4 separate regions of the Homo sapiens genome follow, and regions 2, 3 and 4 are each reported to be linked to region 1. Evidence: microRNA targets listed by miRTarBase, many of them from high-throughput screens and not tested one by one. Region 1 holds a microRNA gene; each other region holds the end of a gene's coding sequence.

Evidence for each region. The annotated mature microRNA hsa-let-7d-5p reads AGAGGUAGUAGGUUGCAUAGUU and lies in region 1 at 2,187-2,208, shown strand. An mRNA with a match to its seed (bases 2 to 7 or 8) in the 3' UTR can be bound and repressed. Matches are read on the target gene's strand: a 7mer-m8 pairs with bases 2 to 8, a 7mer-A1 pairs with bases 2 to 7 and ends in A, and an 8mer does both.
Region 2: miRTarBase lists STX3 as a target of hsa-let-7d-5p. The part of its 3' UTR that is shown has no 7-base or 8-base seed match.
Region 3: miRTarBase lists GPR63 as a target of hsa-let-7d-5p. Seed matches in the 3' UTR shown: 7mer-m8 at 3,427-3,433.
Region 4: miRTarBase lists PHACTR4 as a target of hsa-let-7d-5p. Seed matches in the 3' UTR shown: 7mer-m8 at 1,394-1,400 and 8mer at 3,609-3,616.

Annotation. Positions count from the first base shown.
Region 1 is chr9:94,176,655-94,181,024 of GRCh38, forward strand. MIRLET7D (microRNA let-7d) reads left to right here and starts at 2,180; the gene lies at 2,180-2,266. MIRLET7A1HG (miRlet-7a-1/let-7f-1/let-7d cluster host gene) reads left to right here. Exons shown (of 5, transcript NR_170278.1): 3 at 3,166-3,267. LINC02603 (long intergenic non-protein coding RNA 2603) reads right to left here. Exons shown (of 3, transcript NR_160773.1): 3 at 1-1,077. RefSeq lists an enhancer at 2,591-2,640.
Region 2 is chr11:59,796,821-59,801,004 of GRCh38, forward strand. STX3 (syntaxin 3) reads left to right here. Exons shown (of 11, transcript NM_004177.5): 10 at 463-576; 11 at 4,035-4,184. The coding sequence ends at 546. Among named protein-coding and RNA genes, the nearest start is that of MRPL16, 12 kb to the right of the region's middle.
Region 3 is chr6:96,795,215-96,799,398 of GRCh38, reverse strand. It overlaps GPR63 (G protein-coupled receptor 63), which reads left to right. Exons shown (of 2, transcript NM_030784.4): 2 at 1-4,184. The coding sequence ends at 927. Among named protein-coding and RNA genes, the nearest start is that of GPR63, 40 kb to the left of the region's middle.
Region 4 is chr1:28,495,638-28,499,821 of GRCh38, forward strand. PHACTR4 (phosphatase and actin regulator 4) reads left to right here. Exons shown (of 14, transcript NM_001048183.3): 14 at 897-4,184. The coding sequence ends at 912. Among named protein-coding and RNA genes, the nearest start is that of SNHG3, 8.2 kb to the right of the region's middle.

The DNA of each region.
Region 1 (4,370 bases):
AATCTTCATAGAGGACCAGGCCCTTTTGGAATTGTGAATAGGTTTATTGCCTTACATCCTGGTACACATGTCCAAGGTCAGGTCCTGGGTGGTAAAGGTAAATACAAATTGGAAGGGCACTGTGTGAGCCAAAATGAGTCAGATTAGTCATGATTCATTTCCAGTTTGGGTTTTGGGTGGTCTTGGAGAATGTTGTAAGCACTGCTTCATTGATAGGTTGATTGAGCCAGACTTTACTCAGCAGCCTGGAAAAGGAGAGATGGGCTCTGGGTTCTACCTTTGCTCACTGGTAAGTTGCTAAGATTTCAGCTTTGCCCTCAAACCCTGAAGTAGTCCTTCATTCACACAGTGGGATCACTCGAAAATGTCAGATGGGGAAGTCCATAGGTTGTTACTTTAAAGAAAATAGAAAAAATGCTGGAAAAGGTTTCTTCAATTTTAATACCCATGAAGGCCCATGTTTTAGCTTTCCTCCGATGGGCAAACCATACACTAACTTGGGCCTTGTAATCAACAAGCAAGGCTAAAAGCTCTCTAAGTGCTTGCTGTTTAAACTATTTTGTGTTGGAAGAAGAGTTGGAAAAGAGGCAGTGTGGAGGTGAGGGAGAAGTTCCCTCCCTCCAATCATTTCCAATAAATGGAAATTTAAGGAGAAATTTGTGTTTATCCTTAATATCTAAGATAATCACTGTGCAGTGCCATTGGTACTTTTCATGAGAGTAGAAACATCAAACTTCCTTGGATGGGCCCAACCCAGGTGACTTAACTCTGGACCAAATGTATGCTTTTTGTTTTATCCACTGTGGACAGCTGCATAGATAATTGGTCTTTGTTCTAAACTGCACATAAAAACATGGGAGAAAATGACATTTGTTGCCTTTTGATGTGCCAAAGAAGAGTGGGAATGTTCTAAGAATTCTTTTTGGCTTAATCTTTGTTGAATTGAAAATATGTATAACTCTTCTGCTGAAAGTGTAGCAAGTACAGTCATGAAATTTTGTGGTCTTCCTGACATGTTCTTCCAGCATAACGTTGCCACCTTCAGTTGGAAACGTATCCTTATCTAATAATTAAGCCCTGGAGAAAAATTAATTTATATATTTTATTAATTACATAAGGACATTGTTATTAGCTAAGCAGAGTAAGTAAATCGAAATAAAACTTTAAAAATGCCTTTATGGAGAGAATGACTATCTCTGAAAGCTTGTTTTTAATGATGATAAAATTCATGATCAGAATTTGTTTCTGTTTGCTTTAATTCAGGGGTCAAAAACTGAAATACCATCAGAGGCCCAGGAGGGGCTAGTTGTAACTGGCAAATATAGTAAATTAATTTGCTCTGGTTGATAGGTAGCAAGCAGGGTTTATATACATTGTCACCTACTTTTCCAGTTAACAGGAGAGACTGGAGATTTTATGAAATTTGATATTTAAATGTTGGTAACTGGGTTGGGCACCATGGCTCACACCTCTAATCCCAGCACTTCGGGAGGCTGAGGCGGGTGGAGCACCTGAGGTCAGGAGTTAAAGACCATCCTGACCAGCCTGGTGAAACACAGTCTCTAATAAAGATACAAAAATTAGGCCGGGTGTGGTGGCTCATGCCGGTAATCCCAGCACTTTGGGGAGGCCAAGGTGGGCGGATCACCTGAGTCAGGAGTTTGAGACCAGCCTGCCTAAATGGTGAAAACCTGTTTCTACTAAAAATACAAAAAAGTAGCTGGGCGTGGTGGTGGGCGCCTGTAATCCCAGCTACTCTGGGGGCTGAGGCAGGAGAATCACTTAAACCCAGGAGGCAGAGGTTGCAGTGAGCCGAGATCACACCACTGTACTCCAGCCTGGGTGACAGAGCGAGACTGTCCAAAAAAAAAATTGATAATTAAATGTTAAAAGTCAGCGACTCCAGTAATACGTGGTGGGCTGAGTATTAGACTACTGGCTTACATCCTCTGATGTCATTACTTTCTTGTTCGTTTGTGACTTGAGGTTGGATTTTAAGCAAATGTATTTGTGGCTTTTTACCAAGGTCATATGGCCAGATAACTTTTCAAAAGCATTAGTTAAAGAATTCTGATTAGTTTGAATTAGAAACAAAACTCAAAGAACATGACCTAATTTAACAGGTTAATTTGAAGTGCATCTGCCAAGTAGAAGACCAGCAAGAAAAAAAAAATGGGTTCCTAGGAAGAGGTAGTAGGTTGCATAGTTTTAGGGCAGGGATTTTGCCCACAAGGAGGTAACTATACGACCTGCTGCCTTTCTTAGGGCCTTATTATTCACCGATAACCTGTTTCCTTGCTACTTTGCTTTGGTGTAAGCAGAGTTCTTTCTGTAGGTTTTTTCAAATGAAAACATTGCAAGAATATCAAAGAGAGCAGTGTTTGCGTTAGTGATTATAAACTGCAGCATGGTGCTGACATTGATAACTGAAAGTCAACTAATGAGAATTTGAGACTTCTGAAGTACACTTAGTTGCTAGTGTCTCCCTTTTGGTGTCACTGGAAAGTTTAGAAAGCATGGTTTTGTTTTTGCTCAGGTTTCTCTTTCTGTGATGCAGAGACTCTCAGCTGTTCCTCCTCTATGTCTACATTATGTCTGAAGGAAAGAATTTAACAAAACTTGAAATACTGCTGTTTTTCTACAATGTTTGTAAATATTTATCTTGCTGCTTTTCTAGGTTTGTCTTCTGGATTTAAAATTTGGGGCGGCTGGGGTGGAATTGCATGGTTTGGGAATGGGTAATTGAGCTGCTGCTCATTATGGTATGTAACAGTGATTTGTCTGTTTAATATGTACAAGAACTGGAAGGTCAATAAAATGAAAGTGGTTGTCTTGACTGGGTAATAGTGTTACATATTTTGTTAAAAGTTATACATCTTTTCAATAAAAACACTGCATACTTCAAAACTAGTGCTTTTTAAGTCATCCTTAACCCTTATCCCCATCCTTGCAGTAGTAGATGCATTTTTCATTTGTAATTATTATGATTTGTTCTTAGTTTCATTTTTCATTAGCAATAATTTGGTGATTGGATGGTCATTTACAGATGTTTTAATAAAGCTAACACGAGCAATTTCCAGCTCTTCCATTTTTGTAAACACTTGTGTGACTTTGTACAGACAATTAACTGCTCAGGATCACCCTCCTTTTTGTTTTGTTTTTGAGATGGTCTCATTCCGTCACCCATGCTGGAGTGTAGTGAAATGATCACAGCTCACTGCAGCCTTGACCTCCCGGACTCAAGCTTCCTAGTAACTGGGACTACAGGTGCATACAACCATGCCTGGCTAATTTTATTTTTGTAGAGACGGTTTCACCATATTGCCCAGACTGGTCTTGAACTCCTGATTATCCTCTGGCTTTTACCTCCCAAAGTGCTGGCCAGGACAGCCTCCTTTCTTTACTTGAGTAATTATTTGAGTTTGCTCAGGCAGACACTACCTTGTAAAAACTCTTATGTCTCATTTCACTAGTCTAGTTTGAGCATTTATCATTCTAGGAATGAGACGAATTTGTGCATTAGCATTCCATCTTTTTCCAACTACTATGAACAGTAGTATTTTTTTTTATTTTATTTTATTTTTTGAGACAAAATCTCACTGTTTCCCAGGCTAGAGTGCAGTGGTGTGATCTCAGCTCACTGCTGCAACCTCCACCTCCTGGGTAGAGTAGACAGGATTTAGGTAATTTTTTGTATTTTTATTAGAGACAGGGTTTCACTATGTTGGCCAGGCTGGTCTTGAACTCCTGGCCTCAAGTGATCCACCGGCCGTGGCCTTCCAGAGTGCTGGGATTACAGGTGTGAACCACCCTTGCCTGATCATGAGCAGTAATACATTTAAAAGTCTCCAGGGGTGAGAAAGTTGAAAGGAAATTCAGTGGAGTTTCCCATCCTGCCCCTCTGCTGCCTAGCCCCTTGCTCCAGTGGAAGGAAGAATCGTGATCTAGGGATGTTCTCATACTTGGGGCTTTAAATTTCCTTTATGAATTGAGATGGTTGGGTATGTTTTCTAAGGTACCTTACATGGTACAGTTCTTTAAAGTTGAAGATTTAAGTTGTGGCAAAATTGCATCAATTTCATGTGCACTGATTTAGGCGAAGATGCGTAGGAAAAGAGCAAGGAAATGAGGTGTGATAGGATTGGGGTAATTTCAAAATGAGTATTTCTGCCTGGCCTAGTGGTTCACGCCTGTAATCACAGCACTTTGGGAGGCCAAGGCAGGCAGATCCCCTGAGGTCAAGAGTTCGAGACCAGCCTGGCCAACATGATGAAACCCCATCTTACTAAAAAAAAGTAGCTGGCATGGTGGTGGGCTACTTGTGAGGCTGATGTAAGGAGAACCGCTTGAACCAGGGAGGTGGAGGTTGC
Region 2 (4,184 bases), not on the chromosome of region 1:
CTGTCCTAGGCTGGGTGTGGTGGTTCACACCTATAATCCCAGAACTTTGGGAGGCCGAGGTGAGAGGATTGCTTGAGCCCAGGAATTTGAGACCAGACTGGGGAACATGGGAAGATCCTGTCTCTACAAAAATAAAGAAAATGAGCTGAGCATGGTGGTGCATGCCTGTAGTCCTATGTACTCAGGAGGCTGAGGCAGGAGGATCACTTGAGCCCAGGAGGTCGAGGCTGCAGTGAGCCATGATCATGCCACTGCACTCTAGCCTGAGTGATAGAGAAAAACCCTGTCTTAAAAATAAATGAAGTATCCTAGAAGGATGTCTGTATGTAGAGATGTAGGCCTCTTACTCAGACTGGTAAGATATTTTCTATGTAGAGGTGACAGGGGTTAGGTTTTGGATGAGTTGTTATTTTTTTGGTTGTTTGTAATAATGATTTGTTTTTGTCTTATTCCTCTCTCCAGAAATTGATAATTATCATTGTGCTAGTAGTTGTGTTGCTGGGCATTTTAGCATTGATTATTGGACTTTCCGTTGGGCTGAATTAAGAGTGGCCTAAGAGGCTGCTGCACTGAAATGTAAGTAAACGAGTGGTTCTTGGGGACTCTGGATTTGGCTCCTCAAGAGGAAATTAGCTTGGGATTTCAAATTCCTCTTCTTTCCCCCTATGATTGTCCTTGGACACACTGAGCTTTCTAAAACTTTCAGTAGCCTGTGGATTCTTTATCTCCTTATAGTTCTATTGGTTTCTGGCTGCAGTACGTGGATGAGCTCTCCGTTTGTTCTTATCCTGTAGATTCTGTCCCCAATCTCTGTCTTGTCGTATTACCACTTCTCCCAGCATACCTGAGCACCCCAGGTGACTCCCCTTACTCAGGAAGCATGCTTCTAAGTTGGGTACATCTCTGTCTTGGATCTGGAGTCTGTCTTCTGAATTCTTACTGATTTTCATGGATGTTGGGCTTTACTTTCTGTATCCTTTTCAATGTAAATGAAACTCTGAATTGGGATTTGGATCTGCAGAGTTTTCTCTGTTGCTGAGTGGTTGGGTCTTAAATGATGATAGTTAACACACTTTTGAGTGTTGTGTTGTACCAGACAATGTACTAAACACCTTATACACATATCATTGAATCCTTACAACATCCTTTGAGACAGATACAGTGTTATGCACATTTTACAGACAAAGAAACTCAGTCAAAGAGAATGTTGAATAACAGGGCCAAGTTCACACAGCTAATAGTGGACCTAGCTTCTCTTTGTAAAAGAAGGTAGCCACTTATCATTAACTATAAAGCCTGGAGAACCTTAGAGGATAGCGATGCTAAAATTTAGACTATTCATTTTCTTGAAAATTTGTTAAAAGTGATAGACTTACCACTGAATCACTGGTTTTTTTTTTTTTTTGAGACGGAGTCTTGCTCTATCTCCCAGCCTGGGGTGCAGTGGCATGATCTCGGCTCACTGCAACCTCCGCCTCCTGGATTCAAGCAATTCTCCTGCCTCAGCCTCCTGAGTAGCTGGGATTACAGGCACATGCCACAGCGCCTAGCTAATTTTTGTATTATTAGTAGAGATGGGGTTTTGCCATGTTGGCCAGAATGCCTTGAACTCCTGACCTCAGGTGATTTGCCCGCCTAAGCTGGGATTACAGGCGTGAGCCACTGCGCCCGGCCTGAATCAAAACAAACAAAAAACGTTTTTGTTGTTGTTGTTTTTTGTTTGTTTCTCATTCTTGTCCCCCAGGCTGGAGTGCAGTGGCGCGATCTCAGCTCACTGCAGCCTCCGCCTCCTGGGTTCAAGCGATTCTCCTGCCTCAGCCTCCCGAGTAGCTGGGATTATAGGTGCCTGCCACCACGCCCGGCTAATTTTTGTATTTTTAGTAGAGACGAGGTTTCACCATGTTGGCCATGCTGGTCTCCTGACCTCAGGTGATCCACCCGCCTCGGCCTCCCAAAGTGCTAGGATTACAGGCGTGAGCCACTGCACCCGGCCTGAATCACGTTTAATAGTAGTGAGCATATCAATCTGGTTATTGGGACTATTAAGACTTTTGTGACTTTAAAACAAACAATTTTTTTTTGTTGTTGAGATTGTGTGTTGCTCTGTCGCCCAGGCTGGAGCGCAGTGGTGCGATCTTAGCTCACTGCAACCTCTGCCTCCCAGGCTCAAGTGATCCTTCCGCCTCAGCCTTCTGAGTAGCTGGGACTATAGGTGTACACCAACACGCCAAGATAACTTTTATATTTTTTGTAGAGATGGAGTTTTGCCATGTCACCCAGGCTGGTCTTGAACTCCTGGACTCAAGCGATCCACTTGCCTTGGCCTCCCAAAGTGCTGGGATTACAGGCATGAGCCACTGCGCCCAGCCAGTGACTTTTAAAATATTTTTCTGAATAAAATATAGCATGCATTGTTAAAAAAAAACCTATAAAATACAGAAAACATAAAACTAATGAACTTTTAATATTATTGCTGATAACCTTGTGGCACGTTCACATACTCAGACATAGTTTTACATAGTTCAGACTATATTATCCAGTTTTGTACCCAGTTAGAAAATTATAAGCATCATTCCACAGCATTAAAATCTCTTTGTAAATCTAATTTTCAATATGAGATTGTGGCCATACTCTCAAATATTTAACATTTTCACAATGTTGGAGGTTTATGTTATTTTGCTGTAGCTAACAGTGTGACTAACCTTATTTAATATTTTTCTCATTTAAATTTTCTCTTTATTACCAACTCATATAAGTTGGAGTACTGAAATAACAGGTATAAACATTTTTAAGACTTGGCACATAATACCATGCCAGTACCCAGAGCTGTGCCTTCCTTTTATATTTGTTTCAGTGTGTCTCTTCTTATTCCTCCTCCTTCCATGTGACCAGGGGATCTAAAAGTCAGCTTATTACAGCATTGAGCATTCAACTTCATCTTGAAAGATAAGCAACAGTGAGATGAACAACCTCTCATAGACAGGTGGTTGGTTGATTTTTTTTTTCCCCTCTTTTTTCTGGCACTTGGAGTCTAGCCCTTGACTTTTTTGTATGTGAACTTTAAATTTTGGTTTGGCTCTGAACAATCTGATTGAAATAGATGTTGAAATTTTAAAAAGATATAAGAGTTGTTATTTTTCCATATCCTTGGATGAAAGATGATATGCAAATTTGTGGTGCCCCTTTCTATTCCTAATTCCAGGACTTCAGAAGGTATATGAATCATTTTTCAGGACGTAACTCCTCAAAGAGGAGCAGACTAATTAATATGTTGTTTTTGGTTGACTAACCCTATCTTTAACCTGCTAAATTGCTGAGCAGTTGTTAAGCTGCTTTTTTTGTAGTGTATTCCATGTTCCCTAACAAAGTCAAGACTGATTGTTGCCTAGGTCTGGACTCTCCTCTTCCTCCATGTCACCCAAGGGAGAGAGGTCTCTGAACAGGAGGGTAGACAGTGTGTTTATATTTCCTAGTAATGTGCCAGCTGCTTGCTCTAAGATCATAGTATCCTCATTTTACAGACGGGGAAAGAGCAATGAAGTTAAGGAACTTGCCCAAGACTACATAGCTCATAAGGTGGAGCAGCCATAATATGACCCCTGAACTTTTTCCATAGGCTTTTCATTGTGTCCTTCTGTTTTCTAAAAGAAAGGCAGCAGGGAGTTCATGAAGATCGAGAACCAGAAAGCAGCTCCTGCAGCCTGTCTTCAGGAGCGGTGTTGCTGTGGGACCTGCAGAGCAGGTGTTTTCACTAGGGATTGTCCCTTCCCACCACGTCCTTCCATGGGTGTGGACAGCCTGTGAGAAGGCTTATAAAAGGCCTAGAGGCTTTTCTATTTTTTTCCCCTCTCACAGTAGGGCTTTTTGTTCTTTGTACAGTGGGATATTTAACTCCAAGTTCTGTCCTGGGTTTGTCTATTTCATAGTGATTTCTGGTCTTTCCTCCCCACCTTCCAGGTTTGTGGCTGACTCCTTCTGTTGCCCTTTGCCTTCTTCCTGTGTACTGATCAGCTCCTCCTTTCCCTGCCTCCTAGAAACTGATTTCACTCCAGACTGGTGTGGCCACCCTTGTCTTCAGATGAGAATGGAGTCTGAATGGCCTTCCTGAGAGCGAGTGCGACCCGTTCCTTTGTTTCCTTGCAACCACCCTTGGACCTGACTCAGCTAACAATCTAGCCCTGGGG
Region 3 (4,184 bases), not on the chromosome of region 1:
ATGAGGTCTGCAATTAACATCCTCCTTGCCAGCCTAGCTTTTGCAGACATGTTGCTTGCAGTGCTGAACATGCCCTTTGCCCTGGTAACTATTCTTACTACCCGATGGATTTTTGGGAAATTCTTCTGTAGGGTATCTGCTATGTTTTTCTGGTTATTTGTGATAGAAGGAGTAGCCATCCTGCTCATCATTAGCATAGATAGGTTCCTTATTATAGTCCAGAGGCAGGATAAGCTAAACCCATATAGAGCTAAGGTTCTGATTGCAGTTTCTTGGGCAACTTCCTTTTGTGTAGCTTTTCCTTTAGCCGTAGGAAACCCCGACCTGCAGATACCTTCCCGAGCTCCCCAGTGTGTGTTTGGGTACACAACCAATCCAGGCTACCAGGCTTATGTGATTTTGATTTCTCTCATTTCTTTCTTCATACCCTTCCTGGTAATACTGTACTCATTTATGGGCATACTCAACACCCTTCGGCACAATGCCTTGAGGATCCATAGCTACCCTGAAGGTATATGCCTCAGCCAGGCCAGCAAACTGGGTCTCATGAGTCTGCAGAGACCTTTCCAGATGAGCATTGACATGGGCTTTAAAACACGTGCCTTCACCACTATTTTGATTCTCTTTGCTGTCTTCATTGTCTGCTGGGCCCCATTCACCACTTACAGCCTTGTGGCAACATTCAGTAAGCACTTTTACTATCAGCACAACTTTTTTGAGATTAGCACCTGGCTACTGTGGCTCTGCTACCTCAAGTCTGCATTGAATCCGCTGATCTACTACTGGAGGATTAAGAAATTCCATGATGCTTGCCTGGACATGATGCCTAAGTCCTTCAAGTTTTTGCCGCAGCTCCCTGGTCACACAAAGCGACGGATACGTCCTAGTGCTGTCTATGTGTGTGGGGAACATCGGACGGTGGTGTGAATATTGGAACTGGCTGACATTTTGGGTGATGCTTGTTCTTTATTGACATTGAATTCTCTTTCTCATAGCCTCTCCACTTTATTTTTTTTTATAGGGTTTGTGTATGTATGTGTGTGAGCAGTGTAAAGAAAGAATGGTAATTATAGTTCTGTTACCAAGAATAAATAATAGGAAAGTGATTACAAATATTACCTCCAGGGTTCAATAGAAATCCTCAATTTAGGGTGAGGAGACTTTTTTTTGGTTTTGGGGTTTTTCCTTGATTGATTTTGTTTTCATAGTGGGAATCAGGATTGTGCTTTATTGAGCCTGCAGTTACATTGAATTGTAGGTGTTTCGTGTGCTGCTAAGGTATGCTTATTTGAGTTTATCAAGACTTTTTTTTTCTGGAAGACACTGCTGCTTTTACCATCACATTGGAGCCAAACATCTCAATCAATATATATTTAGTTTTATTTTAAAAACTAACCCAGGAAGGTTAGCGACATTTTAAGGGTCATTACTATTTACTTTGGTGCACTTTAAGAGATAATGTACAAATTAATTCAGTCTTATTTTTCAGAATTGTTTTTATACATGATATGTGCTTTAGGAAATGTGCATTATCATTTATGGGAAGATAGTTTTAAGAAATGTTTTATCTGCATGTACAGTTGTAAAAGAGAACATAAAATGTAGATACTTTTCTAAGCACAATAGCAACTCTTCAAGCAATAGCGCAAAATCTAGGAGACAGGATCCTTGCAAATTTAAAAGGTGAATGTAGTGAGGGGGATGGCAAGTGGCTGGTACAGGCTGTGGTGATTCCTTTTACTCAAGGGTTTTTGTGGAGTATAGGGAGAAGGGGTTGATATTTATGGACACCTATGTGTCAGGCACTGTGCATCATTTTATCCTTACAGGATGTTGTGAGGTAGGTATTATTGTTTTCATTTTTACAGGTGAAGAAAGCAGGTCTCAGAGGGACTAAAATCCTGCCCAAGGTTAGTGGTAGAGCTGGGATCCAAAAATCTGTCAGAATCCTGAGACTGCGCTGTTCCACTGTGCCACGCAGACAGTTCATTCAGTTTAGATGTCACATAGTCAAGAGGGAACTCTATGCATCCTTTAATTTTTTAGACTATGATATTCTTTTTAAAAATTAGCCTTTATTTTCTAACTACCAAAAGAAATATGAAAGCATTACAGAAACACTGGAAAATAGAAAAGAAAAAATAAAATCACTTACAACCACTTTTTGTTTTTTGGAGTCTCGCTTTGCCACCCAGGCTGGAGTGCAGTGGTGTGATCATGGCTCATTGTAGCCTCAACCTCCCAGGCTCAGGTAATCCTCCTGTCTCAGCCTCCTGAATAGCTGGAACCACACACACACACGCACACACAGGTGTGTGCCACCACACCCAGCTATTTTTTTGTATTTTCTTTTGTAAAGACAAGGTTTCACCATGTTGCCCAGGCTGGTCTCAGAGTCCTGAGCTCAAACGATCTGCCTGCCTTGGCCTCCCAAAATGTTGGGATTACAGGCATGAGCCACCACATCTGACCTACAACCACTTTTTAATGTGAGACTTAAAAATCTTAGATAAATAAGGCTGTGAAGCAAAACCAGTGATTTTTTTTTTTGTTTTTGATTTGCAAAACAAGTGACTGACAATTATTGAGAAATTAAAGATAGCTATGTGTAGGTCTTGCCCCTGCGGGTTTGGAGGTTTCCAGTTGTCCATCTGTGTTAGTTGTAAGTGTTCTGGGCAGAATAGTATTGTTGCCCCAATGCTTGCCCTAGCAGAGCTGGAGTTTGTGAACGTGCTCAGATGTGTGTCTCCTACAAAGAAGGGAAAATGAACCCTCGTCTGAGCCTAGAACAAGTTTTAATAGGGCATGTCTGACATTTCAAATTGTTTTTCTCTTGCTGACAGTCTGCCCCCAGGTGCATCTAGGGCCTTGGTCAGCTTCTCTGTTACCAGTGGCTCACTTTATAAAACAGCCCACAGGGATAAGGGCTGAAAATATAGCCACTTGGCTACATCATTGACTAATTAAGTAAGTTAACTGTGGATTTATAGCATCTTTTCAGGATGTTAGTGTTTTGTGAGCCAGTGGAAAAAATAAGCTTCTATTTCTTCATTTGTAAAACCAGAGAGTTGGATTAGATGAATCTCTAACGTCCTGTCCAGCTCAAATGTGCTTTCCTCTATACTAGGGTATAGATTTTTGAAGAGCCTAGCTGACTTCAGCATCACCTCACCCTTTGGTCTCCAGTATTACTTCTTTACATTTTACTTCATTAGCTATTTCTTAATATTAAATGTCTGAAGAGTGTGGCACTGTATCAGGAGTTGGGGCATTGAAAGGTTGAAGACATCATGAAATATCTGGGAAACTCTGCTCTTAAGGAAATTGCACCGATGTTGGAACTCATTGTCCAGTTAAAGAGCTCTTTGGGGACTCAAGCATATTATTCAACATGTTGTTTTGGGATTATCTTCAAATGATAGTCACCTACCTCTTTCATTTCTAATTTTTATTCACAGGTAAAATTGTTTTTGTCCATAGGGATTTTATAGGACATAAGCACTGTAGTAGATACTAGTAGCATTTTGAAGTGTATTATGCTCTCCATTTTCCATATAAACTAGATTTCAAGCAGATATTGATAAGGACATTTTTTATTAGACTTTTCTCTGAGGAAAGTCAGCATGATCTGTATTCATCTTACATATTGATAGGTCATGAAGACTCCTTTTTGGCTGGAGGTGAAACTGAGCTTTGTTTTCTTTGTTCCTGTTTTATGGGCAGTCTTTAGGTACTTTCATGCTGCTTAATAGGCAGTGCCTCATTTGGTGAGAGCTCTGGAGTGCCTGCCGAGACGCTCCCTGTTTGTGAACAAAGATTATGAAGGGGTCTTTGTGAGAATTCAGCAGCAACACTGAACAGCAGTTCTTTTTACACTGGATTATCTTGATCTGATGAGAGTTTACAAATCATTTTGAACATTTTTATTATGTATACATTGTGAAAGCTTTAAAAATAAGTACTATGGAGCACCTTTGAGAAACGTAGGTGCAAAATCATATGTTGCCTATTCCCCCATATTTTCTTGAGGCAGGGAAAGATACCACTACTAATTCTCACTGCTTACAGGCATAATCAGAAATGGTTTTTTGTTTGCCTGTTTTTCCTTCTGGCTAGTAAGAAGCGTAAAAGAGATAATGAAATATTTGTGGTCAAAAGAAAGATGCAAGGGAAATTCCAAATAG
Region 4 (4,184 bases), not on the chromosome of region 1:
ACAAGGTCTCACTCTGTCACCCAGGCTGGAGTGCAGTGGCATGATCGTGGCTCACTGCAGCCTCAACCTCTCATGTTCAAGCCATCCTCCCACCTCAGCCTCCTCAGTAGCTGTGACTACAGGCACAGGCCACCACACCTGGCTAACTTTTTGATCATTTGTAGAGACAGGGTCTCCGTATGTTGCCCAGGCTGCTCTCAAACTCCTGGTCTCAAATGATCTTCTCACCTTGGCCTCCCAAAGTGTTGGGATTGATTACAGGCATGAGCCACCGTGACTGGCCAAGGAAAGTTGTTTTTTATTTAAAGGGTAGACAGAGGAAAATGAACCAGGACAGCATACTGAGAAAGATCAATTGAAGAAGAGAGAAAATTATGGAAAAGATAGTGTTACAGAAGCCAAGAGAAGAGTTCTTTTTTTTTTTTTTTTTTTTTTTTGAGACGGAGTCTCGCTGTGTCACCCAGGCTGGAGTGCAGTGGCGCGATCTCGGCTCACTGCAAACTCCACCTCCCAGGTTCACGCCATTCTCCTGCCTCAGCCTCGCGAGTAGCTGGGACTACAGGTGCGCGCCACCACGCCCAGCTAATTTTTTGTATTTTTAGTAGAGACAGGGTTTCACCGTGTTAGCCAGGATGGTCTCAATCTCCTGACCTCTTGATCCGCCCGCCTCGGCCTCCCAAAGTGCTGGGATTACAGGTGTGAACCATTGCGCCCAGCCGAGAAGAGTTTTAAGAAGGAAGCAGATGAGGAGTATCAGATGCAACAGAAAGGTCAGGTCGAATTAGAGCAGAGGAAAGGCAGTGTTAATTAGGTATAACATTTCATTACTACTGATACATTAATAGCAAAGCAATGTACATCATGTGGTAACTTGTCTCTTTTTTAATCTCTTTTAGCTACCATCGTCCATGATGCCAAAGGTTGAGAGAGGAATCAACATGGCTGCTTTGCTGCTTCCTTCTCCAAAGTGACATATGGAGGGAACTTTAGCACTTCCCAGCACAGCCAGAATTGCATCCTCTGGGATCTTCTGAGGTGGACAGCACTTTGAATGTAGCATTTCACTGGAACAGAGTCTTATGTGCTGCACCGGGGGCAAAACAACACTTTGTCAGTGCTTTTGAACCTTTCAATATTGTAGCATGCTTGAGGAGTTTTTCCCTTACTGGCCACCAAAGTTCTGAACCACTTGCAGGTTCCAGGTTTTACTGGCTGCACCACACCCCTTCCCCTAGATGACTGCCTGTGCAGAGACACAGTTTGCACCATTAGCCTTACCTGCCCTGCCCTGATTGTGAGACCCAAATGTGTAGGCTCTAAATTCCAGCCATCAAATCCAATTCCTGGTGGGGAAAACCTTCTGGAGACCCCCAACCTTCTGATAAAAGAGTCTCTACCTCCAGGGAAAGCCTTCTTACCACACTGGCATATCAGATGAAAGCATTGCACTGTACCTCTCGTAACACAGCAATACAGTCCTCTTGAGGCACTCAAGCCTGAGAGGAAGCTCAGGATCTGACATGTTCTTCCTTTTCCTCACAAGTCATCATGATTTTTTATTTTAAAATAATCTGGAAGTAATGGGAACTTAGTTTTTCCTGAACTCCAACCAGAATCCAAATTGGTTAGATGAGGCCAGGCGCGGTGGCTCACGCCTGTAATCCCAGCACTTTGGGAGGCCGAGGTGGGTGGATCACCTGAGGTCAGGAGTTCAAGACCAGCCTGGCCAACATGGTGAAACCCCATCTCTACTAAAAATACAAAAATTAGCCAGGTGTGGTGGCGCCTGGTTGAGGCATGAGAATCGCTTGAACCCAGGAGGTGGAGGTTGCAGTGAGCCAAGATCATGCCTACTGCACTCCAGCCTGGGCAACAAAGTGGGACTCTGTCTTAAAAAAAAAAAAAAAAAAAAAATCGGTTAGATGAGAAAGCATGTATATTTTCTATATACAAAAACAAGAAAGGCGTTTTGAGCCCCTGTGCTCAGGCCCACTCCCACACTGTGGAGTGTACTTTCATTTTCAATAAATCCCCTTATTCCTTCCTTGCAAAAAAAAAAAAAAAAAAAGCCTTAGCCAGATTCAGTGGCTCACGCCTGTAATCCCAACACTTTGGGAGGCTGAGGCGGGTGGATCACCTGAGTTCAGGAGTTCAAGACCAGCCTGGCCAACATGGCAAAACCCTGTCTCTACTAAAAAGTAAAAAAAATTAGCCGGGCATGGTGGCTTGTGCCTTGTAGTCCCAGCCACTGGGGAGGCTGAGGCGGGAGAATTGCTTGAACCTGGGAGGTGGAGATTGCAGTGAGCCGAGATCGCGCCACTGCACTCCAGCCTGGGTGACAGAGCGAGACTCCGTCTCAAAAAAAAAAAAAAAGCCTTAATATTAATGCTAACGTGGCAGAAAACTAGCAGGTTACATTTTATAGGCTATTGTAGTTTTATTTACCAAATGATATTCTCTAAATCACTTCGACCAATAAATGTATTCTCCTCCTTAAAGCAGAGTTGTATCAACTCTGTGGGAGCATTTATGAGCTGTCAGTCCCCACACTTCTAGCCAGAATCACAATAAGGTCTGGCTGGGTGTGGGGTGCTGCATAGGAAAGGGTCTCTGGAGAAGCAAGAAGGGCACAATCATGGCCCACTGCTCCCCTCTTCTTCTCAGTGCTCTTTGCCCTCTCCTGCTGCGTGCTTCCTCTTCACTCCAGTGCTGATCCTCCTGCTCTCTCTGGCAGCTTCCACCTCACCCGCCCCTCTTCCACACTATAACCAGTATGGTTGGTGCTGGGGCATTGACTCAGCCCCCCTGCTTTCTGCATTTGTAATAGATATTAATATGATTTCCTAAAACAGAAGATTTTGTTGCTTTCTTTGAACTTGTATTGAAAACCATACAGTCTCACTGTTTTGCTTTAATTCCTATCCACACTATAAATGGAAGAAAAAAATTAATAGCTTCTGTTTAATCTGATGAATGTGGCTTTTTTTCCCTTCACTTTAATGTTCAAGAAGTTGTGGCTATTTCATAGATTTCTTCTGATTTATTCTGTGGGTCCCTGTTATCTGTTCTTTATGTAATCTTTCAGTAGATTTTCATCCTTTCATATCCACATTCTTATGTGGACTTGCTGAAGAAACAGAATATCAGTTCAAAACAAAACCTAGGCCAGGCATGGTGGTTCACGCCTATAATCTCAGCACTTTGGGAAGCCAAGGCGGTCAGGAGTTTGAGACCAGCCTGACCAACATGATGAAACCCTGTCTCTACTAAAAATACAAAAATTAGCCTGGCGTGGTGGCACGCATCTGTAATCCCAACTACTCAGGACGCTGAGGCAGGAGAGTCGCTTGAACCCAGGAGGCGGAGATTGCAGTGAGCCAAGATTGCACCACTGCACTCCAGCCTGGGCAACAGAGCGAGACTCCATCAAAAAAAAAAAAAAAAAAGAAGGAAGGAAGGAAAGCAAGCCCTGAATCCACATCTCCTTGAAGTTTTTTTTGTTTTATTTTGTTTTTGAGACAGAATTTTGCTCTTGTTGCCCAGGCCGGAGTGCAATGGTGCAATCTCAGCTCACTGCAACCTCCGCCTCCCGGGTTGAGGCGATTCTCCTACCTCAGCCTCCCAAGTAGCTAGGATTACAGGCATGAGCCACCACGCCTGGCTAATTTTATATTTCTAGTAGAGATGAGGTTTCTCCATGTTGGTCAGGCTGGTCTCAAACTCCCGACCTCAGGTGATCCACCCACCTCAGCCTCCCAAAGTGGTGGGATTACAGGCATGAGCCACCGTGCCGAGCCTTCCTTGAAGTTTTTTGTTTGGTTTTGATTTGTTTTGTTTTGTTTTGTTTTGTTTTGTTTTTGGAGATAGGGTCTCACTCTGTTACCCATGCTGGAGTGCAGTGGCACAATCTTGGCTCAGAGCAACCTCTGCCTCCCAGGCTCAAGCAATCCTCCCACTTCAGTCTAAGTAGCTGGGACTACAGGCACGTGCCACCAGGCCCAGCTAATTTTTGTGTTTTGTTAGAGATGAGGTTTTGCCATATTGCCCAGGCTCGTCTTGAACACCGGGGCTCAAGGAATCTGCCCATCTTCGCCTCCCAAAGTTCTGAGATAGCAGGTGTGAGTCATCATGCCCAGCCTCCTTGAAGTTTACTAACAATTGGGATAACTGAGGGAAGAGAAGTG